Regions from separate parts of the Homo sapiens genome. Here region 1 is linked to region 2. The links come from fine-mapping of genetic effects on gene expression. A gene starts in region 2. The other region holds a variant in brackets. All regions are shown on one strand. Distances are between the middles of the regions.

Region 1 (16,026 bases), 86 kb before region 2:
GTGTCAACCAATCAGGGCTCAGCTGTATTGACCAATCGGAACTTAGCTGTGCCAACCAATCAGAACTAAGCGTGTTTCAATCCTTCATTCGTATGAACAGACCTAATTGGGAACCTGGGCCGGAATTTTGCTATAAAGCTCAAACACTCTCTTTGCTCTCTGGAAGGTATCTTCCTTTTACTCCAAAGGCTGCTTCTGCCAGTTTGCAAACTATTTGCTGAAAAAAAAGTCTCTTTCCTCCAAATTCCTTTTTCAGAGAACTTTTTTTCACAGCTCCTAGCAAAACTCACAGAACTCAGGAAAACACTGCTTACATTCACAGGCTTATTCTAAACGATACAACTCAAGAACAGTCGCATGGAAGAACTGCATTAGGCAAGGTATGTGGGAAGGAGTGCGGAACTTCCATGTTCTCTCTGGGTGCACCACCCTTCCAGCACGTCACTGTGTTCATCAACCTAAATGCTCTCCAAACACTGTCATTTAGGGTTTTTATGAAAATTTCATTATGTGGGCATGCTTGATTAAATCATTGACCATTGGTGATTGACTTAATCTCCAGCCCCTCTCCCCTCTTCAAAAGTCAGGGGGTGGGGCTGAAAGTTCCAGCCCTCTCATTATGCCTTGGTCTTTATGGTGAGCAGTCCCCAGCTTTCTAGGGGCCCCAGCCACAAAACATCTCATTACCATGCAAAAGACAGTCATCACTGTGGGGATTGCAAGGGTCTTCAAAGCTTGGTGTCAGGGACCTGGGACTAAGACCAAATATTATAACAAAAGATGTTTCTATTATTACACCTATCATTCAGGAAATTACCAGGATTTTAGGAGCTCTGTGCCAGGAACTGGGGGTGAAAGCCAAATATATATTCTATATCACAATATCACACTGGCCTTCAGGAACACTGAGCTGACATCCGCTATTACAGGCTATGATTCCAGTCATTTGCTTCCATTTAACAGGTCCTCAAATTCTTCATTTATTTCTTCTAATCCCCAGCCCCTGATGGTACTCCAACCTCTGAGTGTCTCCAAACCCTCTCACTGGGGCACTCAGGGGCTCTGTGATATCCTGCAGGTTGTGGTTGCCCAGAGCCTCAGGCTCATCTCTCTTTCCTGTTATCTCTGTTTCTCTCTCTCTCTCTCTGAACCCCACTCTATCCCATTCTACCCCATTGCCCTTTCACTGTTTGAGATATGGTGCCATTTTAAATGCAGACGCTTGCATTCTTCCCCAGGCTCTTGTAGAGGAAAGAAGAAGAAAACCTTTTTTCTTTACCCACCTTAGGTTTTCTGGCTGGGGCCATATAAATTAGTCTTGCAAAATATTAAAAAGAGAAAAACAAACATAAGTTTAACACATGCATGTACACATGGGAGCACCCAGTGATAAATAACCCCAAGGGATGGTTAGAACTTGGGCTTGTATAACATCTTAGGCTAAACAAAGGAAAGAAATTTGAGCTTCTGGGTGGTCAAGTTATGGGAAGGTAACCAGGAAAAGTATAGTAACCCAGGGTTTTTTAGTAAGGTTTGTTATAAAGATTTAAGTATGTACCTTCTCCACTGATAAGAGTTGTTAAGAATCCTACTCTTTCTGCTATGATAGAGGGAGACACCTTTTACAAATGGAAACTTCCTTTATAAATGTAACTTTTCCTTTACAAAAAGAAAACTTGTGCCTTGTTTTTAGAGTTCTCCTTACAACTGCCGGTTCTCAATGGCTTTAGTTCAAAATAACTCATATGCCAAAGAGGCATATATTGGGGTTGTGTATTCTGGTACCCTCTAATATGTTTATGGAAGTGGGCCACTACTACCAATTTCATTACATTCCCTCATGCTTACACACGTGTTTCTAGACCTCACCTCTTACCATGGTTCAACCCTAAGAGAATAGGAGAAAGCAAGGACACTGACACCTCCTTCTTTCACTCCCTCCCTTCTATCTATCCTTTTCTCCTTCATATTAGAAGAATCTTGTTTTATTTCTTTATCTTGTTTGTCAGGGCCTTGACTCCAATTATTTCCTTCTCCTCAAATCATTGTTTATACTCACCACTTTTCTGGGACTCACACTGACAGAAAGGCTGCAAGAAAACATTTCAAGTTGGAAAAGGAAATGAAAAATACATTCATTTAATATTTTAATATACTCCCCTCACTCCATGATCCATCTACTACATCTCTTTCAAATGCCCCTCAAAGGACATTTATTCTATGTAGGTCTCTTCTCTTTCTAAGAAAGTGAGAGCTAGATCTCTGATCTCCATTTATCCTCTAGTCCTGTGCTGTCCAATATGGTAGCCACCAGCCACATGTGAATATTGAGCCCTGGAAATGTGGTTTGTCCATTAAGATGTGCTGTAAATGCATTAGAATACATACCAGATTTTGAAGACTTAGTATTAAAAAAGAATGTGGTATATTGCATCAATAATTTTTATATTCATTGCATGTTGAAATGACAGATATATTGGGATAAATAAAATATATTGTTAAATTAATTTCAGTGGTCTCTTCTTACATTTTAACATAGCTATTAAAAAACTTTAAATTGGCCAGGTGCAGTGGCTCATGCCTGTAATCTCAACACTTCAGAGGCCAATACTGGAGGATCACTTGAGGCCAGAAGTTCAAGACCAGCCTGGGCAACATAGTAAAATCCCATCGCTATAAAAAAAATTTTGAAAAATAGCAAGGCATGGTGGTGCACACCTGTAGTCTTGGCTCCTCAGGAGGCTGAGCTGAGAGGACTGTTTGAGCCCAGAAATTTGAGATTTCAGTAAGCCATGATTATACCATTGCACCCCTGGGTAACAAAATGAGACCCCATACTCTAGGGAAAAAAAACCTTTAAATTACACATGTGTATGCATCTTATTTCTATTAGCCAGCTGCCAGCTTCATGAGACCTAGGACAATTGCTGGTTATTAAGTATTGTACACATGGCTGGTAGCTAGTGGATTGGCCCTGGGGTGGCCATACCAATTGTTTACTGATGTTATTGGTTTTGGCCCTGACATCATGAGTGGTTAAATATTTTTTCTATCACCTGATTGCATTGCCATTAGCTACCACAGTGCCCACATATAGCAATAGATGGATGGATGGATGGATGAAAACACAAATGATACTTTTTCAGTATCTAAAATTTCCATGCAACTCTGACACGACAGATGATTGCATAAATCTGTCACACTATCCAAATTTTCATTCCCTGCCCTATGATCCAAAAGCCTAAACTAGAGTGATCACATTAATGTCAAAGAACAAGAAGTAAAAAAAGCCTCCTGCCCCATCTCTTGCGGGGGAGACTGAATTTCCACTTTCAAATGTAGAATCATATGAGTAACAAGATATACAAGCACAATTCATGTGAGTTTTTCTGTCTCCATTCCCAGCCTAAGCTACCGTGACAAGGCCAACTTCACACAGGGCTGAGCAACAGCTGTTTATACCGAATGACTGTAGAGCCCCAAGAGACACTTCTACCACTAAAATGCCTTTCTTTTCTTCCTTGGAGAGCTCTTCCCTGTTGACTGTAGGGGGTTGAACTGCATAACCACAAAAATTCATGTGTTAAAAGTCCTAATCCCCATTACTTCAGAATGTAAACTTGTTTGGTAATAGGGTTGTTGCAGATCTAATTAGATGAGGTCTTCCTGAAGTAGTGTGGGCCTCTAGTCCAGCAGGACTGGAGTCCTTATAAAAAGAGGAAATTTGAAGTCAGACATGCACACAAGGAGAAGACAATGTGAAGATGAAAGCAGAGGTTGGGGTGATGCAGCAAAAACCACGGAACGCCAGAGGCTGCCAGCAAACCCCCAGATGCTGGGAGGGAGGCATAGAACAGATTCTTCCTCACAGACCTCAGAAGGAACTAATCCTGCCAAAATCTTGATCTCAGATGTCTACTCTTCACAGCTGTGAGACAATAAATTTCTGATGTTAAAGTCACCCAGCTTGTGGCACTTTGTTACAGCAGCCCTAGAAAATTAATACACTTTCTTGATCTAAATCAGACTCCTAGTTCTTCCTCATACCACCTCCTTTGTGGTACTTACCAAATTTGTAAATATTTTTCCCTGTGTGTCTGTCTGTGTAATGTCTATGTCTCCATTTTTCTCCAAGCTCAATGCGACACCAGTGTCTGTTTTGTCCACCACTGTCCACCCAACATTTAGAAATGAAGAGTCCCTTCATAAGCACTTTTTGATGAATACCTGGGCTGTCCGGCCATTGGAAGCAGAAATGCAACTGTTAAAGGACCACAGGCAGCGCTCCTCAGAAAGAAAAGCCAGAATGCAGGATGGTGCACACTGACAGGCTGTCTCAGCAGCCCTCTTTCAACAAGGTAAAAGATGAAGGTGGCCGGGCACGGTGGCTCATGCCTGTAATCCCAGCACTTTGGGAGGCCGAGGCGGGCTGATCACAAGGTCAGGAGATCAAGACCATCCTGGCTAACACGGTGAAACCCCTTTCTTACTAAAAATACAAAAATTAGCCAGGCGTGGTGGCGAGCACCTGTAGTCCCAGCTACTTGGGAAGCTGAGGCAGAAGAATGACCTGAACCCTGGAGGCAGAGCTTGCAGTGAGCCAAGATCGTGCCATTGCACTCCAGCCTAGGCAACAGAGCGAGACTCTGTCTCAAAAATAACAAAGGGTGAAGGTTAGCGCTGACCTCTTTGGCACAGGCTAGTCTATTCAGTTATCTAACTGGATCAGGCAGAGATCAGGAGCCTGAAGTAAGTTCTAGAAATAGAACCCCATTCCCCTGGAGACGGCAGACCTAAAGGAAGCATCACAGCGTGCATGTATTGTTGAAGAGGCAGGAGGAGTGTTCCTCTAGAATGGCAGCAACAAGCAAGCACAAGGAACCAAGCCCTTGGCAGTGGAAGGAAACCAGCTGAAGCAAGACAAGCAGAAATGATCACAGTAGCTACCACTTATTGAGTCTCAAGTGAGTGCCATGCTGAATGCTTTTCTTACATTATTTCATTAAATCCCCATAACAGACTCACCAATAAGTACTATTATTACCATTTTACATGAAAAAACTGAAGTTGAGAGAGGTTAAGCAATTTGCTCACGGGCACACTGTTAATGAATCATAAGCTAGAATTTAAAGCCAGAGATCTGCTGTTTTGATACTTTCCTAGCTTTGCAGCCTTGCATAGAACTGGCCTTGATGACTTTCTTTCATGCTGTGATTACCAAAATCTGAAAAACCTACATGTTTTAGAAAGCATTACTTACCAATAATTGCTTACTGTCTATCTCCACCTATTAGAAAGCAAACGTCTTGAGATAGCAAATGCATACTCAAACTTATTAGGATTTCGATCCAGTGAACAGTAGGAGCTCAAAAATATTTGTATTAGGAATGAATCAAATAAGCACTTATTGACCACCTAGATGTACTTTAGAAGACATTAATGTTAAAAAAAAACTTCATATTAGAAAAAGAACCCTTACAAAACTACTGCACTAGAATGAAGCATTTATCTTTTCCACTTTTCAATTGCGAAGTACTGCAATATAGTTAAAGTTTCTGTGAATAAAAAACTATTCTGTGCTGCCCTATAGAAAGTTCCCACCCTTAGTTTTACAAACTTCCCTTCTCTGTATATTCATTTTCTTCTTCTAGCTGCTTGTGCTCAACTCTCCATTGGATTCTCTTTTGCATACCTATCCCAGTTTTGCTTGCTAAACCAGGAACTTTTTGTTTTAAGAAAATATTCAGGGGCCCAGGGGAGGGATAGCATTAAGAGAAATACCTAATGTAAATGATGAGTTTATGGGTGCAACAAACCAACATGGCACATGTAAACCTATGTAACAAACCAGCACGTTGTGCACATGTACCCCAGAACTTAAAGTATAATTTTTTAAAAAGGAAAATATTAAAGGTAATCAAACAGCAGATATTTTCAAATTAGATAACTCTAAAAGATAGCTAAACCTATTAAGATTAGGCAGCTGTTGATGATAAACCTCAGAATAACTTTCTCTCTCCCCTAATACAGAAATCAGAAATCAACTGGCAGGTGCACAAGCAAGATACCAAATTCCCGTTTCCCAGCCAAGCTCCTGTGGTGAAATTGTTCCTTGGCAAATGTCCCTTTTTTTTTTTTTTTTTTTTTTTAACTTTGCCTTAAGAGGAGGAAAAGCTGCCAAATGCCAACTTGGAGAATAGTGTACAAAATGCTAAATATAAAGAGTTGAGGAATATCAGGGGCTATTTTAAAAATTAGTCTCTAATAGAGCCTGTAGTATCCTCATATGTCTAGGAAACAGCATGGCAGTCATGTTGGTTTACACCAAAAGCAATAATTCTAGGTTCAAAAGCCCAATCTACAACAGCGCTAGTAAATCTCAGTATCTTTCAACTGAAGGCCAACCTATTTAACATTTCCTGCACTCAACAGCACAAACTCAGAAAATGAGAAGCTAAGTGGAAAAACAAGTGATCAGTGGAGTTGAAAGTACTTCTGCTCTCTCTTCAGATATGACTTGGAAGTCAAATATTACAATAAAAGAGCTCACCCAAGGCTCAAATCTTGAATAGTAACTCACGCTGGTCATAAGCTCCACAATGGGAGGCTTTGAGGGGCAAAAACGCATGCATTTTGTACCTTGATATTTATGATGTTCTATCGCCACCTCCTGGAAGAAAAGACCAAGAACGCCAAAAAAAAAAAAAAAAAAAAAAAA[G/AAG]GGTGCTTAGTATTAAGGCTTCCAGTGAAGATAAATTTCTTCAATTCTCAAGAAAGGTAAAGACATTCTGCAGCCGCTGACAGTTCCATTTCAGATGAATTAGCATAATGTTGGGCAAACAGCAAACCTAAAAGGCAAATGTTCAAGACTCTAGCGTCAGTTATTTGCCAGCAAAAGATAACATCAAACATATGAGTAATGAGCCTTTAAAGTTGCCAGTCCCCAGGGAAGATTTGAGTTCTCATTAGTAAAGAGATATGAGATCCCATTTTGCCAGAGTCAATAGCACCGCATGAACACAGAGAGATACTAGAAGAATAATTTCCACACTTGGCTCTGAAAATAATCATCCTTATCTTTGCATTTTAAGTCTCAGAATTTGGCAAAAGAGTTCTAAGGATTTTAAAACATTAATAACAAGACTAAGAATGTTCCCAGATGAACTCTTATTTCTCAGACTATCTTGTTGGAGTTATTTACACATATGGCACAAACAAAGCCAAATGAATTGGAATATTTGACTTTCTCTCCACAAGATCTTACCAGTCTTTGTTTCTCAAGGTTTAGTTTGCATAAGGACAAAGGAATACAGTCGAATACTTAAAAGTATTATTTTAAAACACACTTTTATCTTGATAGTTATGTCTTTTCCATCAATATCTCTATTCACTATGTGAAAAAAAAAAGTCATACAACTTCAGAGTAGAAAGCATTTCAGTCCAACCACTTCACAGTCGCAAATCACAAGCTATTCACCCAGGAGGAAGAGCTGCTAAAGTCAATTCCCACTAAATTTCACCAGGGGCAGTTTAAACCTTCTGTTCTGTCTAGACATTTTGCCCTCCTCTGCCCAAACATCCTGACTTTTAAGGAGTTTTACAGCTTAGTCAACTCACCAACATCCTGAAGTAGGCTGAGATTGCAGATTTCTTTTCTGAATACCAATTATGCTTATTTATAAAACACAGAACATGGAGCAGAGAATTTAAGATTTTAGAGCTGCAAGTCACCTTCCTTTTATAATCCACAAAAGTGATTTGCTGTGATACCTGATGGCCTCTTTTGGAAAACAGAAGGCTTGAACACAGCATTGAAATGTGTCAGACTTTCTTTTTAAAATTTTTTCAGCTTCTTTTGAGGGTATATCCTGTAAAGCACTATGAGAAACATCCGAAAGACACAATTCTTATCCCCCAAAAGCCAATTATGTTGTCTGACTTCGGTTTCCTAAGCTACCCACAAACTGAAAGGCAAGGTATGGTGGTCAAAGAGTAAAGTCGACGTCTACACAGAAGCTTCCCTCTTTCCCTCAGCTCTGCCTCTTTCCAGTGCTGCTCATGTGATATGATACTTAGTCAAGCTTACTTTTTAAGTCAGCCACTTCGTGGGAACACTTTCCGGAGTGATGGCCAGCAGAATAGCTAAACTTTGTTACTGCCAAACCTCTTCTTGAGACAGGAACTCTGCCTACACAAAGCAAAAACAATATTTCAGCATCCCACCCTCCCTTTGAACCCACATTTGGAGTCATAGTTTCAGTTTTCATAACTATCCGGAAAACTGAAATGCTTCACTGGCCCACAACCAAACTCTTGGGCTCTTTTCAAGTCTGCCATCTCCCCCTTTTCATTCCACTTCCTCCCTCACTGTGAAACCTTGCTTGCTTGGACACTCCTGTAGTTTTAGACACCTTCCTGTCGATCTTTGAGCTATTTACCAGCTGAACATTTGTATTGTTAGTGTTAAATGATAAATTCATATAGCTAAGACACTTGACCAAGATAGACCGATACTATCATTTGAGCAACTGTCTCCTGCAATCTGTCATCACAATGAGATAGCCATGTTCTAACCTATCAGTAAGATTATACAAAAGTAAACAGAGTTGTCGGTATAAAATTGATTGTCAGCCGGGCACAGTGGCTCAAGCTTGTAATCCCAGCACTTTGGGAGGCCGAGGTGGGTGGATCACAAGGTCAGAAGTTTGAGACCAGCCTGGCCAAGACAGTGAAATGCCGCCTCTTCTAAAGATACAAAAATTAGCTGGGCATGGTGGCAGGTGCCTGTAATTCCAGCTACTTGGGAAGCTGAGGCAGGAGAATCTCTTGAACCTGGGAGGTGGAGGTTGCAGTGAGCCAAGATCGCGCCACTGCACTCCACAGAGCTAGACTCCATCTTGAAAAAAAAAAAATGCCACTGAGAGGTCATCTTTTATGAAATTCAAAAGTTTCAGAAATGTATCTAAATTGTCACCAATCCTTTCCCTGTAGTGTTCACCAGCCTCTGATCAGTTGATTTTAGGCAAATTTCTCACCTTCCACACTTGCAACACAAACTCAACTTCCAGCATACAGAGCTACTTGAAGGTTTCCCTAAATACACTAGGCACCCTCAGTCACTACACTACATATATGCTCTTGCTTTTTTGCCCAATGCCTGCCTTTTGACAGTCTGAGTAATGCCTACTTGTTTTCAAACTTCAGCTCAGGAGCTGCCTTCGCTTGTCTCATCCAAGCAGTCTGCAGCCCCTTGCTTTTATGCTCCTACAAGACCCTATTTATAACTCCATCACAGTGCCCATCATATGCTGGTAAAATGGTTTGTTTTCCCCTCTCACCTGCCATAGGTTCATTCTGAAAAAAGATTAAGAGTTTGACTCTGCAACCCCAGCACCCCAGGCTGTATCTAACACGTGGTAGGCAAACTGCAAATGTTTGCCAGATGGATGACCATTCCTGATGGCCAAGACATTAAGAAAGGGGCTGTTTTCCAGTGGTCCATAGCACTATGGACAGCTAAGATGACTGCCTCACCAGTTCAGAAGAAGAATAAGACATGCTCTCACTTACTTTCCTCCCTCCCCTTGTAACATGTATCTGGCGTTCTAGACAGCCCCATTTCCCCATCAGCCAAAGTTTTGGACCTATCAAGAATAAATCTTTAATTGAAGTCTATTAGTCTGTTCTCACACTGCTATACCTGATACTGGGTAATTTATGAAGAAAAGAGGTTTAATTGACTCACAGTTCCACAGGCTATACAGGAAGCATGAGGCTAGAAGGCCTCAGGAAACTTACAATCACGGCAGATGACTAAGGGAAAGCAAGCACATCTTACCATGATGAATCAGGAAAGAAAAAGAAGAGGGAGGTGCCACATGCTTTTAAACGATCAGATCTCATGAGAACTCACTCACTACCAGGAGAACAGCAAGAAGGAAACCTGCCCCCATGATCCAGTGACCTCCCACCAGTCCCCTCCTCCAATTCAACATGAGATTTGGGCAGGAAAAGAAATCCAAACCATATCATGAAGCTTTAATTGAAATGTTTGATTCTTCAAATAAATTACTTTCAAGTCAACCCAAGTGGCGTACAACTCTTGTAAACAAGTTTTCTAAATTTTGGTCACATTTTATTAACAAGTATTGAAATTTTAAATCAAGGCATTCAACAAGTGGAAGAACAAAAACCTTCAGCTTGCAAAACTTTTTAGAGAATTAAAGTTATTGAAAACAAAACTTACAGAAGAGCAAATGAAATTTGTCTATACAAAAAAAAAGGATGTGAACAAATGTTAACAATACAAATTTAAACAGGATACAGGATTTAATTTTGAAATTCTATAATTGCACTTTGGAATATTTCAACTTGAAGAGTCTTTTGATGGAGCTCCTACGTTTATTCAGATAAATTGGCATTCTGTTCCAGAATAGAATGGAATAGAGTTGAGAAGTCTACATTTTCACAAAACCTAAATTTGGTGAAATGCTCCAAACAGTCATAAAGACAACGTTTTTCTTCCTTTTATTTTTTTTTCTTTTTTGATTAAACATGTCTTTATTATCAGTATGCCTGATTCTGTGGAAAGCCGACTGGAACCCTGGTCATTCTGACTCTCGGGGCCTCATGTTCCAAGGTTGGCTGCTGCAACTCTCTCTTGAGCTCTACCTGTGTGTACATCTTGGTGATGTCATTGTACCTGCCTTTGGGGGGCTGGTAGTTAGAGACCCATAGTGTATAATCTGGACCTTCCCATTCAAAGGGGAACATGCTGCAGTCCCACTTGATGGTCTCAGTGGGGAACTCAGGGGACTTGAGTGGTAGCTCCTGCAGAGCTTCCTGCTGGGTCCCCAGCACAGCCTTGATGGTGTCCCTGTCCATAGTGTGCTCTCGCTGCTTGTACAGAGACCACTCATCAGAAGCAGAGCTCTCCACTCACTCTCCTCCAAGGAGAGCTCCACCTGAGGCCACTGGCTTGCTTTATCCAAGAACCTCACAAGGCTAATAAAATCTGCAACAAGAATGAGCTCTTGGCTAGCCTTTTCCAGTTTTCATATCTTATTTTTCAAGCAGCCCTTTCCTGCTTGGTCTTTTTTAGAATTCACCTTCTGCTCTCGAAGAGGTTCTGCTCTCACAGGAATGAGTTCGTAGGAGGACAACACTGAAGCTCGCTGGTGGGTGCCTCAAACCTGCTCCAGAAGCCACTGGGTAGGCACATAGTGCATGCCAGCTCACAGCCTAGCACTAGGACTAGTTGGCAGCCTGGCCCTGAGAAATATTGATCTACAAGATTTGTCTTATAGAAGTGCATGTCAAAGAAAGGCATTCCAGATTGAAAGAAAAATATCTAGGCTAAAATGTTTACCCATTTTAATATATTTTAAAAGAGAATTGGGAATATCTTCTATTTAGCCGCATTTGTTGTGAGCTTACTGATTACCTCACCACTGACAGAGAGAATATATTCTCATTAAAAATAGAATTTTCATCTAGAAGTAAATATATCAAACATTTTCCATTTATATATCATAAAATTATATTTTGAAGATTAGAGGCAATTTTATTAAAATTTTGGAACCAAATTAGGGAAAAAAGCATTATTTACTCAAAGAATAAAGAAAGAAAAGAAGGGGAGGAGGAAGAGAAACAATGTCATAGGCTTAAAGGCAGACCAAACTAAGAAACTAAGTAAAATACAGTACTATGTTTGAAGAGTAATTATTACACTTGTGTTTTTTGAAATATTCAATCAATATATCTGCTTTAATAATTTTTTATTTTTTGTTTTTATTTTTGATCTTTGTTTTTTATTTTTGCTTTAATATTTTTAGAGAGACCTTTTAAAACAGTTTTAATGGAATTGTTTTATATGCTTAACAATAACATAAAACCAGTTTGTTGAACAATAAGTAAATATTTCAAAACTCATATAATGTTAATTTTTTAACAACTCATTTTCAAAATTGTACCAGTTTGGTTAGTAAGTTAGATTCTCATCTAAGCTCAAACTAAGTGCAGCCAGCATGGCAACTTATGGGTTGAATGGAAGTTGTTTAGACCACACTGAAGGGTTCTGATTATATCCTGATGGTTGGAGGATGGAACAAGGTGCACGAGCAGAGAGGTAGATGAAGCTGGAAATGCAGATGCCAGGTCCTCACCTGTACTTCATCCAGAGCAACTCAGCCTATATTTTATTTACATATTGAATTTCTGTGTAAGTTCTAATTTGAAGAAATGGTTCCATGACTAAAAATAAGCTTGAGACCACCACTGTGGGCAATGAAGAGTCAGGGAAGAATTTTAAGCAGGGGAGTGACATGATCGTGTTTGCATTTTTAAAAGTCACTCTGGCAACAGGAGGGAAAATGGACACTTATAAAAAATAAACACCTAGAATATGTGGGTTTAGCACATGCATACAATACTTCTTTGCATTAAGATTTAACGTCATGCCTGAAAGGCCTTCTTTAAGACTTTTAAGAAAGTCCAAAATATTGTTTCAAAGCCCCTTTGTACAAGGATCTGCACATTTAATTATGATTAGAATTTCATAAAAAGTTCATTTCTTTAGATGACCTAATTTGATTTCAATTACAAATCAACAAGAACTATATTACATAACAGTGTTTTCATTTTTGACATAGCTGCCTAGATGCTCAGAACTAAAACATTTAACTGCAGCAACTGATTTATTCTAGGAACTCAAAATGCAAATTTTTCCTGTATTTTTTTCTTTGTTTTGTTTTGCCTTTTTAAAATAGCCATTTCAAATATCTTTTGGAAGTACTGACTCTAATAGTAAATAATAATTGTCATGATTATTATTATATAGGGCTTACATGTACCAGACAATGTTCTAAACTCTTTGTATATATAAACTCATTTAATCCTCACCAAACTAAATATGGAACTATCTCTGGCTTTGGAATTTGTGAATTTATTTATAAAACATAGGTGACATCAGAGGACACCAGTTTCCCTTCATCACCAGTATAAACTTACCTAGTAATTTCTGTGCTTAAAACCCATCAAGCATATTTCAAGACAATTTCAAAAAAAAAAAAACTTGGCTCAAAACAACTAAAAATCAAATCACTAGAAGAAATCACCTCTCTGATCTTCCAGTCTTGTCTATGTAAAATACATGTAAAATAATGATATATATAAAAAGGTTGTAGGGAATTCTAATGAGAAAATAAATGTATAAACCATGTCGAAAATTGTAAGGGGGTAAACAAATATGAGTTACTGTTATTCTGAAAAAGAGACAGTAAGGAGTTGTCATTATCTCACCTGTCTCATGCAGTCCATGGGCAAGTCAATCTTCACAACACATTCAGAATCTGACAACTTCTCTGCACTTCCACCCCAACCACTCTTGTCCAGGGCACCATCTTCTTCCACCAGAACCATTGCTACAGCCTTCTATTGGGTCTCCTGCTTCAAATTCTTCCCTTTCACCCAGCAGGTACAGAGATTCTTCTAAAATACAATGCAGATTATATCACTCTTCTGCTCAAAACCCTCTGAGGTGGGCAGAATAATGATCCCTCAAAGATGTCCTGATCCCCTAATCCCTAACCTACAACCCCCAGAACCTGCGAATATGTGGCCTTATGTGGTAAAAGAGTCTTTGCAGATGTGACTAAGTTAAGGATCTTGAGGTGGGAGATTATCTTTGATTCTCCAGGTATAATAACAAAGGTTCTTATATGAGGGAGGCAAGAGAGTGAGAGTTAGAGAAGATGAGCCAAAGGAAGGAGAGGTGGGAGTGGTGCCATTGCTGGGAGGGGCCATGAGCCCAGGAATGTGGACTCTAGAGGTGGCAAGGTCAAAGAACAGATTCCCCCCTAGAGTATCCTGAAGGAATGCAGTCTTGAAATCACTTTGATTTTAACCCCGTATGTTATGAATTGAATTGTGTCCCCTCCAAAAAAATAAATATTTGGGAGTCCTAACCCCCAGTATCTCAGAATGTGATCTTACCCGGAGATAGGGTCTTTAATAGAGATAACCAAGTTAAAATGAGGTCATTAGGGCAGGACCTAATTTAATATGACCAGTGTCCTGATAAAGAAGTGAAAATTGGACACAGACATGAACACAGGAAGAACATCACATGAAGGTGAAAGCAGAGATTGTGGTGAGGCACTACAAACTAAGGTATGCCAAAGATTGCCAGCAAACCATGAGAAACTAGTGGAAAGGCATGAAACAGATTATTATTCACACCAATCCTGCTGACACCTTGATCTCAGATTTTAGCCTCCAGAACTGTGAGACGACAAATTTCTGATGTTTAAGCCACCCAGTTTGTACTTGCTTCATGGCCGCCCTAGAAAATTAATACACTCTGCAAGACTTATTTTGGATATCTGACCTCCAGAACCAGAAGATAATTAATTTGTATTTTCCTAAGCCAGTAACTTTGTGGTAATTTGTTACCATAGCAATAGGAAACTAAAACACTCTGTGAAGGCTCCCCTTCTAACATCCTAAAATATGAAGTTGAAATGGTTTGGGTTTGTGTCCCCACCCAAACCTTGAGTCAAATTGTAATCCCCAGTGTTTGATGGGGGGCCTGGTGGGAGGCGATTGGATCATGGGGGTGGATTTCCCTCTTGCTGTTCTCATGAGAGTGAGTTCTCATGAGATCTGGTTGTATAAAGGTGTGTAGCACCTCCCCCTTTGCTCTCTTCCTCCTCCAGCCATGTAAGATGTGTCTGCTTCCCCTTTGCCTTCTGCCATGATTGTAAGTTTCATGAGTCTTCCCCAACCATGCTTCCTGTTCAGCCTGCTGAACTGTGAGTCAATTAAACCTCTTTTCTTTATAAATTACCTAGTCTCAGGTAGTTCTTTATAGCAACATGAGAATGGACTAATACAGAAGTCCTTACCAGAGTATAACATCTTCCAACCTGACACTTCCTCTCTGACCTAATCTCCTAGTACTCTTTTCCTCACTCTCTGTGTTCCAGCCCCACTGGCCTCCTTGTTGTGCGTTGAACACTGATATGGTTTGGCGCTGTGTCCCACCCAAATCTCATCTTGAATTGCACTCCCGTAATACCTGCAGGTGTGGGAAGGACCCGATGGGAGATAATTCGAATCATGGGGGCAGTTTTCCCCATACTATTCTCTTGGTAGTGAAGAAATCTCATGAGATCTGGTGGTTTTATCAGGGGATTCTGCTTTTGCATAATACTCATTTTCTCTTGCCATCACCATGTAAGAAGTGCCTTTTGCCTCCCACCATAATTCTAAGGCCCAAGCATGCTTTAGCTATGCTTGCTAAAGCATAGCAACAGTGGCCTTTACTTTACTTACTTTCCCAATAAGTTTCTCATCTCCATTTGAAACCACCTCAGCCTGGACTTCACTATCTATATCTCTATCAGCATTTTGGTCACAACCATTCAACAAGTATCTAGGAAGTTCCAAACTTTCCCTTATCTTTCTGTCTTCTGAGCCCTCCAAACTGTTCCAATCTCTACTCATTACCCAGTTCCAAAGTTGCTTCCACATTTTCAGGTATCTTTATAGCAATACCCCACTACTCAGGACCAATTTTCTGTATTAGTCCACTCTCATCTTGCTATAAAGAACTACCTGAGACTAGGTAACTTACAAAGAAAACAGGTTTAATTGGCTCACATTCCCACAGGCTGTACAGGAATCATGACTGGGGAGGTCTCAGGAAACTTACAATCATGGCAGAAGGTGAAAGGGAAGCAAGCACATCTTGACATGGCCAGAAGGAGAGAGAAAGAGTGAAGGGGGAGGTGCTACACACTTTCAAACAACAAAATCTCATGAAAACTCAGTCACTATCACAAGAACAACAAGGGGGAAATCCGCCCCCATGATCCAATCACTTCTTCCAACAGGGGGGATTACAATTCAGCCTGAGGTTTGCGTGGGGACACAGAACCAAACCGTATCAAATAGGCTGTTATTTGGTCCACTCCTGTGTCCCCACTGCCTGTAACAAACAGTGCTAGACACACTGGAACAACTTAATAT
Region 2 (16,026 bases):
ATTTATTAAGAGGCCGAATCATAGAATTGACCTCACTTTCTGACAACACTCAACCTAAAGCAAGGCTTCACTTCCTTAGACTCTTTCCCAAATTACCCAAATGAATAGGTTCCTTCTAACATCCTCTGATACCCTAAAGTGTGTGTTTTCCCTGACTATTACGGACAAAAACCCAACTCGTGTCAGGATGCCCATATAAGAGAATTCCAAGAAGGAAAAAGTGATTTAAAAAAATATACCAAATAGATGAGCAAAGAAAATATCCACTAAATGAGTTATATTAGGAGACTAGGGAGACTGTTGGGGATTTTAGGAGAGCAGTCTCTACGAATTCAGATGGGCAACAGCTAAGAAATCTGGAGTTTATCTTGTAGTCAATGGAAATTAGTGAGGGAGGCAATGATCAGCTGCAGTATATAGGAAGAAAATTCTAATGGCCAGAGGGAACAAACTGGGTTAGGAAGAGGCCTGAGACAGCAAGATTAATTTGAGAAATACTCATCAGGAGACTAAAGAAGACAGACGGGAGAAGGGTGATATCAAAGATTTTCTGCTTGTGACTTTCAGTGGATGGTAATTTAACAGGCCAAAATAAGGATAAAGAAGGCATTAAGACGGGAAAAGAAAAAGATAAATGTTTACGTTTCAGACTTCAATGGAATTCCCAGGTTGATATGACCTGTAGGCAGTGCCATCTCATTCCTTTATTCAACAAGTATTTTGAGGGCACCAACATAAGGAACTCTACTCTGCAAACACAGTGATGAGTAACACAGTCTGGAACTTACACTAGGTATGCACTAGATCGATAGATACCTTGCACTCACAATAACTCTCACCACAGCCTCTCCCATCATACATAAACACAATTTTACTCTTGCTTCCAACCAGAAATCTAGTTGATATGGTCAATTTTATCACTCAGTACACCAATTACCTTTCAGAGATCCTGCACATACACCACTGCTATTTCACTTTTCCTCAGTTATTCCTTAGAGTGCTATGAATTAAGTTGGAACAGTTTTTTTTTTTTTCTTTTTGAGACAGTCTCCCTCTGTCACCCAGGCCACAGTGCAGTGGTGCAATCTCTGCTCACGCAACCTCTGCCTCGCAGGTTCAAGCAATTCTGCTGCCTCAGCCTCGCGAGTAGCTGGGATTACAGGTATGCACCACCATGCCCGGCTAATTTTTGTATTTTTAGTAGAGATGGGGTTTCACCATGTTGTCCAGGCTGGTCATGAACTCCTGACCTCAGATGATCTGCCTGCCTTGGCCTCCCAAAGTGCTGGAATTACAGTCGTGAGCCACCACACAAGACCTAAATTGGAATAGTCTTAATATTGTTCATGTAAAGAAATCTAATTTTTACTAATCTTTCTTCCCAGTTTTCTCTGTGAGGTCCCTTCCTCCTCTTTCTCAGTGGTGAGCCCTAATCACTGCTGATAACCAGTTAGCATAGTATATATCAAGAAAAAAACATCAAAGTAAAATCAAGAAAGTTACTGCCATCAACCTTCTAAGTATTTTTAAAAGTGCCCAGAAATCACCTTCTTAATCTCTGCAAATCTATTTCTTCTGATTAAACCTGCTTTTCTCCAAGCACAAGTACTTAAGATAATTTCACTATTTCCTGTTATGTTATTGTAAATGCCCACCCACACTGTACTTTCAGCTATATGATAGGATCTCTAAGGTTCCTTCCAGCTCTGAAAACCTGATTCCTTAAAAGGCTTGAGTTTTTTTTACAAGCATTTTAAACAGTTTCCAAAAGAAAATACCGTCCAATATCCAAAACACTTAAATAAATAAATCTGGTAATATAAACCTTTATCAAATTGGGAAAAACTTGCATTCCAAAATGGGGTGAATTATTTTAAGAAGATTCTATCAAGTGGTATTTAAACAAACAGTTTAGTTGATTTTACAATGGTTTTCTGGAGGTTCCTAAAATCCCTATATAATGGAAATAAAACCCAATTCTACTTAAACAAGCACCTACTGAGAACCCACATGGCCCAGAGCCAGACAAAGAGAACGATTCCGTTTAGTAAGACAAGGTCCCTATTCTTAAGGAGTTCTGTGGACAATATCCATCCAGCTACAGTCAGGTTATCTATTCCCTCTTCCCCAGTGAAGTTTTGTATCGTGTGCTTTACATTTTCACTTTCTATCTAGAGTTTCATTTTCAACACCTGGCTCAAATCTCTCCATGGACATGAATCTTCTTGCTTTAATATTCTCTGCCACTTAATGCCTGACAATTACATATTGCCCTGGGTTATTCATCTTTTTACAATAGTGTCTTAACTATTCAACAAGCATGTAGATTTAGGGAAAGTAAGCACCAGATCTTAAACTTTTTGTAGTCCTCAGGAATTATTAAAAGCATCTTCTAGCATGAAATATTCTATAAGCCTAATTTTAGAGGGAAATGAAATTTAAGGCCTGAATCTTAACATCCACTAGTCTAAACCCTGGAGAAGTGACATAGCTGGGTGGTCAAGAGTTCATGTTCTGGGGGTAAAGAGATCCTATAAGTCCCAGACCTACTATCTAACTGACCTTAAACAAGTACTTAATCTCTCCAAATCTCAGTTTCTTCAACTGTAAACGAGATTATTATTATCCTCTTTTACTAAAGTTGTAAGGATAAACAAAAATCAAGCTCACAGTAAGCATTAATATTAACTATTATATATAGAAAGATAATGATATTTTCTTTAGCTCTTGATTCCTTGGAATATTTTAAATCAACTGGTGGTTGAAGAATATGAAAATAAAAGAAGTGGCTGGGCACAGTGGCTCAAGCCTGTAATCCCAGCACTTTGGGAGGCCAAGGTGGGCAGATTGCCGGAAATCAAGAGTTTGAGACCAGCCTGGGAAACATGGTGATACCCATCTCTATAAAAAAAATTAGCTGAGTGTGGTGGTGCGCACCTGTAGTCCCAGCTACTCTGGGGGCTGAGGTGGGAAGAAAATCGCTTGAGCCCAGGAGGTTGAAGCTGCAGTGAGTTGAGGTGGTGCCACTGCACTCCAGCGTGGGTGACAGAGCGAGACCCTATCTCTAAAAAAAAAAAAAAAAAAGAAAAGAACTTAGTTACCTCAACCTACCAAATATTCAATATTAATATTCACAAATGGAGTGTCACATGGTTCATCCACATTAAAGCTTTCACTCTGGTATCAACCGAATCCCCTATCTATTGGCTACATTATAAGGTTTACTCTTTATTCCTTTATGGAACATGCATCCCTAGAGGTCCTTAAAATAACTATATACACTGGTACAAATGTTTTCTGGCAAAAAGTCTCAGTACACTCCAGAAGTGTTTCTTTTAGGGAGGAAGTGATGAGAAGCACTGTTCTAAGGTACTGTCCCAAGGAATGTTTCTTCATTTTTCTTCTGAAGGTTTTATTTGAATTGGCATTCATTAATAACTTTTCACTAAACCGAGGCTAGTAAGTAACAGGCACTATCCTAGTAATTAAGACACACAAATGCCTCCTCCTTTTTTTAATAAAAGAGCTCCTAGTCTCCTTTTTTTAAAACAAACAAACAAAAAACCCTGCATGGGTGGATGCGGTGCTGGCCTGTAATCCCAGCACTCTGGGAGGCCCAGGCGGGTGGATCACGAGGTTAGAAGATCGAGACCATGCTGGCGAACATGGTGAAACCCCGTCTTGACTAAAATACAAAAAATTAGCCAGGCGTGGTGGTGTGTGCCTGTAATCCCAGCTACTTGGGAGGCTGAGGCAAGGGAGTTGCTTGAACCTGGGAGGCGGAGGTTGAAGTGAGCTGAGATGGCGCCCCTGCACTACAGCCTGGCGACAGAAAAGACTCCATCTCAAAAAAACAAACAAAAAAAACCAAAACAACAACAACAACAAAAACCCTGCATATGGCAGAGTTCCTAATCTCAGCATTTCTCATCCTAATGCTTCCCCATTTCTCCTAAGTCTTAATATCTCATTTTTAAATAATGCACAATACTAAAACACAAAAGAAATATTACAATTTTTCAATAAATTGAGCCTTAATAGTCCTACAAAAAGATTCTTTTAAAATGCAGAAATTTCCAAATTTTTAAGCCTGCATTCATTTCTTTACCTTCTCTGTATTAATGAACTATGTAATTATATAAATAGACCTGAAATTTTATGCCTATAACAACCTTTTGTAATTAGTCATGTCCATGCCTCTCAGAAGTGAAAATGTAATCTCAAATTAAATAGCTTGCATAAGATCTTACAGTTCATAACAAAGAATCACACATGATTAGAACCCAGATCTTGTGACTAGGTCAAATTCTCTTTGGATTCTACCATGAGGATAATAAAATTTGCTCTTCATTTTGGCAGCATTTGTTTCTTCTCTCGTCCTTAGTACAGGCAGAGTGCTTTGCACATGTTGGTCATTCCATAATGTTAACCTTGCCCTCAAGATCCTTCTAGTGCTAGGTATTTTTAAAATATGTAGCCACAAATCTTGGTATTTAAGCCAAAATAAATAAACTTCTAATGAGAACAAGGCATCATTTTTTTAAAAAAGAGCAAATTAAAATAAATGCCTATACTAAAAATATGCAGAAAAAATTTCAAAATTCTTGACTCCAAACGCTCACTAATTAATTATTAAATGTCTGTTTAAACTAAACATATAAAGTGCTTTAGTTCCAAAGACTTGTTTATTAACTAGATGGCTACAGCGCATTATAAAAATGTTTTTTAGAAGACAGTTGATAAAAATATCTTAATGATGCCAAATTACTGGAAATCACGTACTGCTCCTAAATATACCTTGTTTAGCATTCACCAACTATTAGGAATATATCAATATTACACTAATCCTCCAGGAATTGTTTTGATTCAGTACAACCAAAATTCATACATAATCTTTACCAAATTCAGCAGTGACTGTCATTTAGTATCAGAGCACTATTTCTTTCATGTAATTTATTTAAGAAAAAAACAACTAGGTATGTACATGTTATCTTTCTTTCACAGGAAATTTAAGAAAGCAAGCTTCAGTCAATAATCACATGTATGGTATCACCACATAATTTCTTTAGCCTTTCTAAACTTATACAGGAGAATGACTAGTTGAACAAAATTGTATTATTATAAAGTGCTACCTTCAGACTGAAATTGACCACAATCAGAATGAAATTTACCACCTTTACAGGATGAGCCAAACTGACAGCAATGGGGAGGAAATCACGCCACACACCTCATCCATTACTTGAATTGGAAGCAAGCAAAGCCCCAAAAATCAAACGGCATTCCAATCCGTAAAACAACACAAAACCTTTATTTCCCCCAAGAATCTTAATTTTGGCCCTAGAACTACACAAATCTAAAACACACAAAACAAACATGTCACCTCCAAAAAGTTACAATACTAAAATTTTTACCATTAGCGAAATGATTTTTAAGTTTTAAATACATTTAAGAGCTGCCTAGGTAGAAATATTTTTTAAAGTAATACGTGGTTTTGTGGTCATTGATTATTTTAATAAGCCAGTATATCAATTTAATCAGGAACACAATTACTACTTTTTCATGGTTCTCCTTTCACAAATCCGAAAAGTTCTTCCCAGTCCACACGGTTTGGACACATTTTCAAGTGTTAAAACATATTGTTCATACAAAACAAACAAGCTCTTTAGTCACAATTTTAGTTGAAGACTATTTGTTATTTCCTTTAAAATGCACCCAAATTACAACCACTAAGCATTAGAGAACAAAACAGGTATAAGGAAATAAGCGATTTTTTTTTCTTTTTTTTTTTTTTTTTAGATTGAGAACTTATTTGTGAAGAGATGGGAGGCGGGAAAGAATGCAACAATCACCGAAGCGTGCAAGGAAAAATAAAAACAAAGATAACCTGTAAAAATATAACAAATCTTCACTATGCATATTACAACACTTTGGAACCAACAGTACCGATCTCCTGAACAGAACTGCTGTAATAAAGCTTCATATTCACCAGGTCCGTATTAAACATCTCTTCCTTTTGAAGATCCGTCTGCTATGATTAAGATCCAGCAATCCACCCCTTTGGCAGTGATTTTGGATATGAGGACATGAGACTGAAACCCCGAGTTCCTAAGTTGGTTTTACCTGACAAGAGGAACTGACAGTGATGCTGGCGGGAAAACCCTATGAGCGAAGTTTCCTCCATCCTGGCTCCCCTCCCCCTTCTTCCCACCTTCACGAAAATTAATAATCCACAAAAGAACTATGTATCAGCCAAGAGCGCAAAAGTTCATCATTCCACCTGAATGCAGCAAGGCCCACGCGCACCTGCGGGCAGAGAGGAGGCTGCCGGGTCCCCGAGTGGGCAGCAGCTTGGGCCCCAGCGAGCAAGGCGGCCTAGCGCCGCAGGATGGCAAGCGAATAGGCCCGGCGCCCGGTCTCCCGGCCTAGAGCAACTCCCTTCTCCACAATGGTGGGTGGTTTAGCCCCTTCGCGCTACCTGAGACGCAAGAATCGCCTCCTGGTGGGGCAGGGAAGGATGTGGGGGCGCTGAGACAAGCAAACGGGGCCTAGAGACCGCGGCGGGCAACTGCCTAGGAGAAAGAATGGGGGGAGGGGGTTGCAAGAGGGGAGAGGAAAGGGGCTCCGCAGGGATCGGGAGGCCAGCGGACCGGTGGGCTGGAGACTTCGGGGCAGAGAAGCTACCGGCTACGGCCGAAGGGGTGGGGCAAGGCCTGCGTGACGGCCAGGGCCGCGGCTGCGAGAACCCCGAGGTGGGGTGAGGGTCGGATCTCGGCCTCACCTAAAGTCCTTGTCGCTGGATGTCATTTTTTCCAGCAAATTGGAAATGTGGTACGAGGCGCTCGCCATGTTGACGGCCTCGATCCCGCCTGCTGGCGCTGCTGGAGCTGCTGCCCGCTGCCGCTGCCGCCGCCGCCGCCGCCACTGGAGCTCCTCCTCTCGCTCGCGGCGGCTCCCGCTTCCAGGGTCGCAGCGCGACGCCGACGCTGACTAGGGAGGCGCCTCGACGGGCTGCCCCCTCCCTGGCGAGGCGTGGGCCTGTCCCGGGGTAAGCCGAGGCTACAGAGCCAGCCTAACGACGGCGCTGTTCGCGTGAGAACGAGCTCATGGGCGGCGGGGCGTACAGAAGGGCCTCTACGGGGAGCCAGACACTTCCACTCAGGGCCGTCTCGCTCCCACTCGCTCCGCACTCGCTCCCTAGGGCAAAAGGCCAAAGCCCGCCTCCTTCGCTCCGGGGGCGGGGGCGGCAGACGCGGGCGCTACGGAAAGCTAAGGTCAGAGTTCACGGAGGCCTCCCCACGCACGCTGTGGAGAAGAGAGTTAAAAAACAATTCGGTTGGCTGAAGCCTGTGTCAGTTTTCATGTGACCCGCCTTTTGGAGGCATGACAACACAAAAAAAAGGGGCTGTTCTCGCGAGACTCTAAAGCGACGGTTAAGGGACAGGGGACGAGTGGAGCAAGTGGGCCTTAATCTGAAAATAACTTGATTGTTTAATGACATTAAGAGAAAAAGATTACGAGCTTTGAGAAGGAGGAAGCCTGGGAGTAACGACAGTTAAGGAGTTAGCTTGCGGAACCAACATAAGAATTTATAACAGGGAGGTGTCGTTTGGGATCAGACGCGTGGCCTGCATTGCCGTAGCCACCGTGGTGTAATGTTGCCACGTAAAAACCACAAATCCCAGAATTCAGTCGGGTGATACACTGGCTCAGAATGTGATTGGCTGCGGGAACTAGTAGCTTCCTCATTGGCTCCCGTGGAAGGAGTGAATGCTGGGATTTGCAGTCTGATGGGGGAGCCGTGCTGGGTAAAAACCTTAGAATCGTCGCGCACTCCGTTTCTGCCGCGGATTCTTATATTCTCCAATACAGGCTTTTTCTGTTATGCAGTATTTGCAGAGCAGGCTGCTGCAGTTTGGCCAGGCGCATTGCGGATCAGTTGGTGTTCTTGCCAGAGGCCTAGCAGCAGCTTCCTAGCGCTACTACTTGCACCTCCCAAGGCAGCTGAGCCTCCCCACTTCTCTGGCCAGACACACTCCTACCGTGCATCGTAGAACCACCTCTCTGACGCCAGCAGGACCTTAGTAAGAGTAATGGGTATGCGACAGATGGCTGTAGTCAGGCCCTACTGATTTCAAAATAGCTAAAAGACTATCTCTGTAGTTAGCTTTTGTGGCCTTGATGGACCTGCAGCTGTGTATTGCTCCCTCAGACGTACAAATTCGTGGAGATGAGTTATGAAAGTATTTAGTATCCAAGTTTTTCATCTGCTTAATATTTGGGATTTTAAACACAAGTTTTGCCAGCTAGGGGTCAACATCCCTGAAAGTGTTAGGGATGGAGCTAGCTGACAGGCCTTTCTAAAAGAACAGAGAGCCTGGTGAAGAGATGAAAAATCAATCTCACTTGATACTCCTGTTAAAAACAACAACAAACCTTTAAATAGCTCTCTACTAACACATAACTCAAATCCGATCAAATCTACCTGACCTTTACCATTGTTTTCTGTATTCATCAACTATTACTGAGTACTTCAAAGTCAGGCAATAGGAGTTAATAAAACAGATGAAACTTGGTTTAGCCTCATAATATGTGTTTAAATTTCACACATACCTCTGATCTGCTCTCATGTATCCTTCTACTTGAATGTATGTAATATAAAGGCCGGGTGCGGTGGCTCATGCCTGTAACCCCACCACTTTGGGAGGCCGAGGCGGGCAGATCAGGGCATCAGGAGTTCGAGACCAGCCTGGCCAATATGGTGAAACCCCATCTCTACTAAAAATACAAAAATTAGCTGGGCATGGTGGCGCGCCTGTAGTCACAGCTACTCGGGAGGCTGACGTAGAAAAATTGCTTGAACCCAGGAGGCGGAGGTTGCAGTGAGCCGAGATCGTGCCACTGCACTCCAGCCTGGGCGACAGAGTGAGACAACGTCTTAAAATGATAATAATAATATATACGTAATATATGATATTTTTTCTCCCCAGTAATGCCATATTTCATTTTACCAATCTGCCATGATTAATATATCTTTCATCAAACTGTCCTTAGTGCTTCAGCCACAATTAATTGCCTTTTGCTCTGAATAGCCTTTCCACCATATTTAATGTAAAACACACACACACACACACACACACAAAGAAGCAGGTCTTTTTTTGTATGTGTGGACCTCAAGGCCTCAGTCATTTGGTATTATCAATAATACTTTCTTTTAGCCTGTGTCCACTCAGAAAGCAAATCATGGTTTGTCTTTTTCTGTGTGTAAATTCTTTCACTTTTGAATTTCCAGCTGAACTATAATATTTGGAGTCAGATTCCTTAAATATAAATCATGTTTACAGCCACTTACTTGGTGTCATAGGCAATTCATTTTCATCTTTCTCAACTTCAGTTTCTTCGTGGGTAAATGATGATCAGGATATTACCTCAGGTTGTTTTAAGAGTTAAATAACTCCTAACCTCAGGTGATCCACTGGCCTCAGCCTCCCAAAGTGCTGGGACTACAGGCATGAGCCACCACGCCCGGCCCAGCCAAATATGGTGAAACCCTTTCTCTACTAAAAATACAAAAATTAGCTGGGCAGATGATAAGGAGAAAATAATGAATGTCAAAGGAAACGTAATTCCTCCAGTGCTGGTTGTCTCAACTGCGATTGTTGTGGTTTGGAAATGTATCAACACCCAAGAAGGCTCTCTCTTGTGGATGTATCACTTAAAACACCCAGAAGTTGTTGACGGCGGCGGGCAGAAGGGCCGGTGGTTTCCAAGCTGCTTCAACAATGGGACCCACAATCCTCAAGCAGAGGAAGAAGAAGACATAGACAAAGAAAAAGAGAAAGAAAAAAGAAAAGAAGATGACAAAAAAAGAGCTTCGGCTATGGAACTGGTTTAATCCATACGATCGCCCAGAGGTGCTGACGGTGACCAGCTGGAATGAGCCGGTTGTGTGGGAAGGCACTTAGAACAGAACCATCCTAGAAAATTATTATGCCAAACAGAAAATTACTGTGGGTTGACGGTTTTTGCTGTCGGAAGACATGTAGAGTATTACTTGAAGGAGTTCATAGCATCTGCTGATAGGTACTTCATGGTAAGCCACAAAGTCATGTTTTACATCATGGCCGATAATCCAGGATGCTGTTGATAGAGCTGGGTCCTCTGCGTTTCTTCAGAGTGTTTGAGATCAAGCCCGAGAAGAGGTAGCAGGTCATCAGCATCGTGGGCATGAAGACCAACAGGGAGCACATGTTGGCCCACATCCAACAGGAAGTTGACTTCCTCTTCTGCATGGATGTGGACCAAGTGTTCCAAGACAATTTTGGAGTGGAGACCCTGGGCCAGTCCGTGGCTCAGCTATAGGCCTGGTGGTACTGGACACATCCTGAGGAGAATACTTAGGAGAGGCAGAAGGAGTCGGTGGCATACATTCCATTTGGCCAGGGGGATTTTTATTACCACGCAGCCATTTTTGGTGGAACACCCATTCACTTTCTCAACATCACCCAGGAGTGCTTTAAGGGAATCCTCCAGGACAGGAAAAATGACCTCGAAGCCAAGTGGCATGATAAAGCCACCTAAACAAGTATTTCTTCCTCAACATACCCTCTAAGATCTTATCACCAGAATGCTGCTGGGATTATCATTATAGGTCATCATGCAGATATTAAAATTGTCAAGCTATCTTGGCAGCAAAAAGAATATACGTTGGTTAGAAATGATGACTGACTTCAAATTGTGCCAACAGTTTTTTGAATTTGAGAGAATTATTATTCTGGCTACTTCCTCAGAAAACAATTTTAACTTTAAGAAAATATTAATGAAACACCAACATTGCAATCACATACTATCTCTCCTTGTAACTTTGAGCATTGTAATATGAGAGAATGAATCTATGGTAATCAGGTGTAAATTCCCAGTGATTTCTTATGTATTCTGAATTTGGGGGAAATACTATCAGCTGAACCAGAAAGAACTTGTCATAGGCAAAGATAAAGCCAGAAACAGGCCAGGCACGGCGGCTTATGCCTGTAATCCCAGTACTTTGGGAGGCCAAGGGAGTGGATCACCTGAGGTCAGGAGTTCGAGACCAGCTTGGCCAACATGGTGAAATCCCGTCTCTACTAAAAATACAAAAAATTAGCCGGGCATGGTGGCGCACACCTGTAATCCCACCTACTCAGGAGGCTGAGGCGGGAGAATCACTTGAACCTGGGAGGCAGAGGTTGCATTGAGCCAGATTGTACCATTGTACTCCAGCCTGGGCAGCAAGAGTGAAATTCCATCTAAAAACAAACAAACAAAACTCTACATGTGTCAGATAACATCCTGGAGAAAATCAGGTGGTAAGGGAAGTGTTGGCAGCGAGATATGGTTGTAGGGGGTTATACCCTTGATTCCAATGTTTTCCTGTTTCCGATGGATCTAAAGAACATGGAGTTTTTATTTGCAGCAGGGGAACTTTCAGTAAGGACACCGTTTGCCTTGGCAATCCTCAAAATACTTCAAGAACAGATTGTTTCAGACCATCTGTAGTCCATTCTTTTCTCATCAGGATGTCATTTGGTTTCTGTGTGAAAGTTTGGTGGAGATTCCCAGTAGATATTATGATGGTGCATGGTCAGAGTCCCAGGGAACCTGAATGAACCAAGGTGCTCAATGTGAAGTGAAAACAGCCTCAACATGAGTGCCATGAAATAGCAAAGAGAGAGTGCAAGAGAGGGGCTGATCGCTGTGGGGCAGTGCCACCTTGCAGGAACACATGCCATGAGGTTGGTGCTTAAATACATCATGGATCCAGGCACTGAATGGGAGGCAGTATGGGTGATTTCCAGCTTGGTTGACCCCATGACTGACAAACAGCAGGGACTTGAATGGAAGATGCTTCTTGTTTTGCCCAAGTTGTATTCGGTCTACCAGATTCTGCAACTTATGTCTTCAGATCCTTGGTGAGGAGATATGGATGCTGTCAGAGAAGGCAAATGCCTGCAGTGGATCGAAGAGGTTTTCAAGGAGTTCCATTTCCAGAATGTGGCTTCATCAGAGGACAATGGATCATCAGCTAGTCCCACCACTTAGCTATTCTGGAACTCAGGGTTCCTGTGCCACTCATACCCCAACTTGGAGGGCTGACATCAAAGAGTAAACTGAAGAAATCAAGTAACCTCTCATTTTTCATCTGCACTATGGAAGTGTAACAACTAGACGTGTAACCAGCAAAAGGGTTCGGCCATTTGTTTATAGAAAGGAGTCAAAATAATAATGACATGTGAAAGAAAGAGAGCAAGACTTTACTACTTGTGTTAGCAAGGGGAAGAATGGGTGAAATTTTAAAAAATTTCCACTCTTCCCTTTGTGGAGGGAAGATAGAGATTTTTAAGGAGAGAGGGGTTTGGAATGTAGGAGAGGAAGTGGGTATGAGGTGGCACGGTTTGTTTTAATGACTTATTGTGAATTGTTGTTTTATTTGGTGAAGGCCCTGGTGTCATTTTGGGCTTTAATTAGGTTACAAATTAATTGCAGTCAATTTTATGGTCAATTTTTGTTTTTTCTTGGAGATGGGGTCTCACTCTGTCTCCCAGGCTGGAGTGCAGTGGTGTGATCTTGGCTCAATGCAGTCTTGACCTCCCAGGCTCAGGTGATCCTCTCCTACCTCAGCCTCCCTAGTAGCTAGGACCACAGGCATGCACCATCCAGCACAGCTAACTTTTTGTATTTTTTTTTGGTGGAGATGGGGTTTCACCATGTTGCCCAGACTAGTCTCAAATTTCTGGGCTCAAGCAGTCCTCCCACCTCGGCCTCACGAAGTGCTGGGATAACAGGTGTGAGCCTTTGCATCTGGCCTGTAGTCAGTTTTTAGCTGGGATTGAGTTTCAGCCTTGACTGGGGAGAGAATTTTGGAGGTGTCTGGTTTGTGTTAGGATTTGGCCTTTGACGTTTTAATGGAAATATATGACTAGATATGTCAGTGTGGCATGTACTTAACAAGGATGTAAGTAAATAAATATGCATAACGCATGGGAGTATAGTATGGGAAAGAAGGGGAGTGGCGATTTATAGTACATTTTGAGGCTGTATTTTAAGGCAAAAGGAAGCAGATATATAGTTTGTCTAAAGTTATATTTTGAGATTGGGAGAAGGGAGGAAAGAAAACATTTTGAGGTTGTAAAATACATTTGTAGTTTATTTTCAAGTTATATTTTGAGGCTGGGGAGAAAGTTGGAAAGGAAAAAAAGTTTTAAAATGCAGTTTGAAGTTAAGCTGTTTGGTTGTAATTTTTATTGTCAAATTTTATTTTATTTGTATGGAAAATGGCTGCCATAATTGTTTTGGCTATTTTTTTGTTGAGAAGGGGCATAGTTTGGGGGTATTAGAATGGAATTGATTTATTTGGATTTGGAAATATTTATGAGTATTTGGGCCTATAGACAATATTTATTGGAGTGTTATAGTTTGAGGTTTAGAAAGTTTTGGGGAAAGTCTGTCTTACAGTTTTACATAGAGGGTATAATAGTAGTAAGTTTTATAACACAGGGATATATCTACCCCTGTAGGCCAGGCCAATGTTATAAGTAGTTTTTGTCTCTAACATGGTCCTGACTTGAATTAGAATGTCCCCTATTGATTTAGTGACAATGTAGGGTCGCACATAGATTTAATTTTTTGGTGTATATTTTGTAGGGCTATTTGAGGCATTTTTGAATTTTTTAATTATGTAGGGTTTTTATTGTTAATTGTAATTGGATGTGATGACACGTTGGCTAATATATATATTTAATAGGCTGTAAATAGGGATATGAATATTTATGAAGGTGGCTTTAAGTCTTGTTTAGTTTATGAGGGTGGATTAGTTTAGTTAGTTGTTTTATTTAGAAGGTAGTATTGTACATGGGCTAGGCCTTTTTATGTGATGAAGGCAGAAAAAAGTTTATTAAGAGGCATTTTTATGGAAATAGAAAAGCAAATATTAATGTTGGAAACTATTTGGATGTTAAAGTACTTTTAGTTATAGAGGAGGAAGGCAGTAGTAATTTGACGTTTTCTTTGTCTGTGTTATAAGGAATAAGCTTTAGTTTGTAAAGCCTCAGGAAAGAGGTAGTAGTAATTTTATTGAGTTTAAGTTAGAAAAATAAAAGAAAAAAATTGAAAATATTAGTTTGGAAATTTGTACTCTAGAAAGAATTTAGGATTTAGTTAAAATTATAGAAAATAATAAAAACTCAAAAACAGTGGATAAGACTAGAATTTAATTACAGGTGTATTATAGTTAGGTTTTTTTGAAACTTTTTTTAGTTTTTGTTTTTATTAAAGACAAATTATAATAGGACAAATTTATAGGCAAAATAAGTTTTAGTTTTATTGTATTTGGCTTGTGTATTTGTGTAAAGTCAGTAAGAATAATTATTTGTCATATAGGCTTTTTTAAAAATTGGCTTTGTTGGAACTTTGTTATAGGGAATTTTAGATTAGATCTTTTGAAGTTTTGAGTCCAGTCATGGGTTTATTTGTGTCTTTAAATATTTGTATTAAATGGGCAAATTTTTTCTTTTGAGGTCTCAAGAAAACTTGGGGCTGTGGTTCCTGTTAGAAAGTGACACTTTTTATTTGTTATAGGTTAAGAATTTTGTATAGACACTGTATAGACAAGGTATGAGGTTAGTTTTTTAAGGGGCTTTTATTGGCTTTATAGGTTAATTTTGATATTTTAAAGTAGTTTGTAAGTATGTTTTTTAAATTAAAATTTTGGTAAAATAGTGTTTTTAATTGTGTTATAAAAGAAAATAGATTTTTATTGAATTTATGTAAATAATAATATTGTTATAAATTAAGTATATGTATAAATAGTTTGTAAATTTTGGAGAGATTAGCTAGAGAAAAATATGTCTTAAATTTTCTTTATAGGAGTGTATTTTATCTGACTGTTGAAAGTTGTCAATAGCTAAAAAGAAAAAGTTTTTTGGACTTTGTAAAACAGAAGAATTAACAGTGTTTTAAATAAAAAGTTATAAAAATATTTTTTAATAGTATAGTTTATGTAATTAATTTCTGTTTTGTTTGATATGTATGAACACAGTAGGTTTTATGGGAGTCTTGAATTTTTTTTATTTTACTGGCATAATTTTTAAAGTTATTAGATATTTGTATTTAAGAGTATTTATTAGAGTTTTATAGTTGATTATAAAATTGTTTTGAAAATAATTAAAACAATTGTGGATGACAAAAGTTTTAAAGTAATCATGGTTAAAGCTTGGTTACTTTTGTGGCACATAATAACTTCATATAATTATTATCGATATATATTGAAACAGAATTATAGGAATTTTATATAGTTTTGGAATATATATTGACAATATATTTATGTAAATATAGCTTAAAGAAGAAAGTCAAACACTATTTTATCCTTAACAATCTTTTTGTATAATTTTAATACATTAAATGTTAAATTGATTTTCTTGGACTTTAAGGGACTTAATATTTAAAGAGTCGATTAGATTACAAGAAGGCTTAAAGCCAGGTATGATGGCTTGCCCCTGCAATCTCAGCACTTTCGGAGGCTGAGGTGGGAAGATTGCTTGAGCCCAGGAATTTAAGACCAGCCTGGGAAACATGGGGAAACCGCGTCTCTATAAAAAAATAAAAAAATTAGCCAAGTGTAGTTGTGCACGTCTGTAGTCCCAGCTACTGGGGAGGCTGAGGTGGGAGGATCACTTAAGCCTGGTAGATGGAGGTTGTAGTGAACCATAATTGTGCCACTGGACTCCAGCCTGGGCGACAGAGTGAGACACTGTCTCAAAAAAAAAAGAAAAGAAAAGAAAAGAAAAAAGGCTTAATTTAGAATTTGACTTTGAAAAGTTTGTCAAGTATTCTAGGCTTAAATACTTGATATTATAAAATAAATAAAATTTTAGGTTATTGTCAGTTATTTAGTACAAGTGATAAATAAAAAATAATTAAGACAAAAATCTCTACTCATTGATAGAGGGAGACTGTTTTTTAAATAGGATCCAATAAAAACAGCATGAAGCCAGC

Direction of the effects. Alleles are on the strand shown, and positions count from the first base shown. SD is a standard deviation of normalised expression in the study named.
In carriers of allele G in region 1, the expression in fetal neocortex of the gene that starts at base 7,206 in region 2 tends to be higher than with AAG alone (large effect, 1.0 SD a copy in Walker 2019).

Evidence for each region. PIP is the estimated chance that this variant, and not a neighbour inherited with it, causes the effect.
Region 1: its variant is fine-mapped to the expression of CAND1 in fetal neocortex (Walker 2019, PIP 0.95).

Annotation. Positions count from the first base shown.
Region 1 is chr12:67,346,669-67,362,694 of GRCh38, reverse strand. LOC124902957 (a long non-coding RNA gene) reads right to left here. Exons shown (of 2, transcript XR_007063354.1): 2 at 10,015-13,485. It also overlaps the pseudogene MRPL40P1. Among named protein-coding and RNA genes, the nearest start is that of CAND1, 85 kb to the right of the region's middle. The variant G/AAG (reference allele first, on the strand shown) is at 6,719.
Region 2 is chr12:67,260,538-67,276,563 of GRCh38, reverse strand. CAND1 (cullin associated and neddylation dissociated 1) reads right to left here and starts at 7,206. Exons shown (of 15, transcript NM_018448.5): 1 at 6,779-7,206. The coding sequence starts at 6,846. It also overlaps the pseudogene GGTA2P. RefSeq lists enhancers at 6,440-7,091, 7,371-7,630, 7,771-8,070.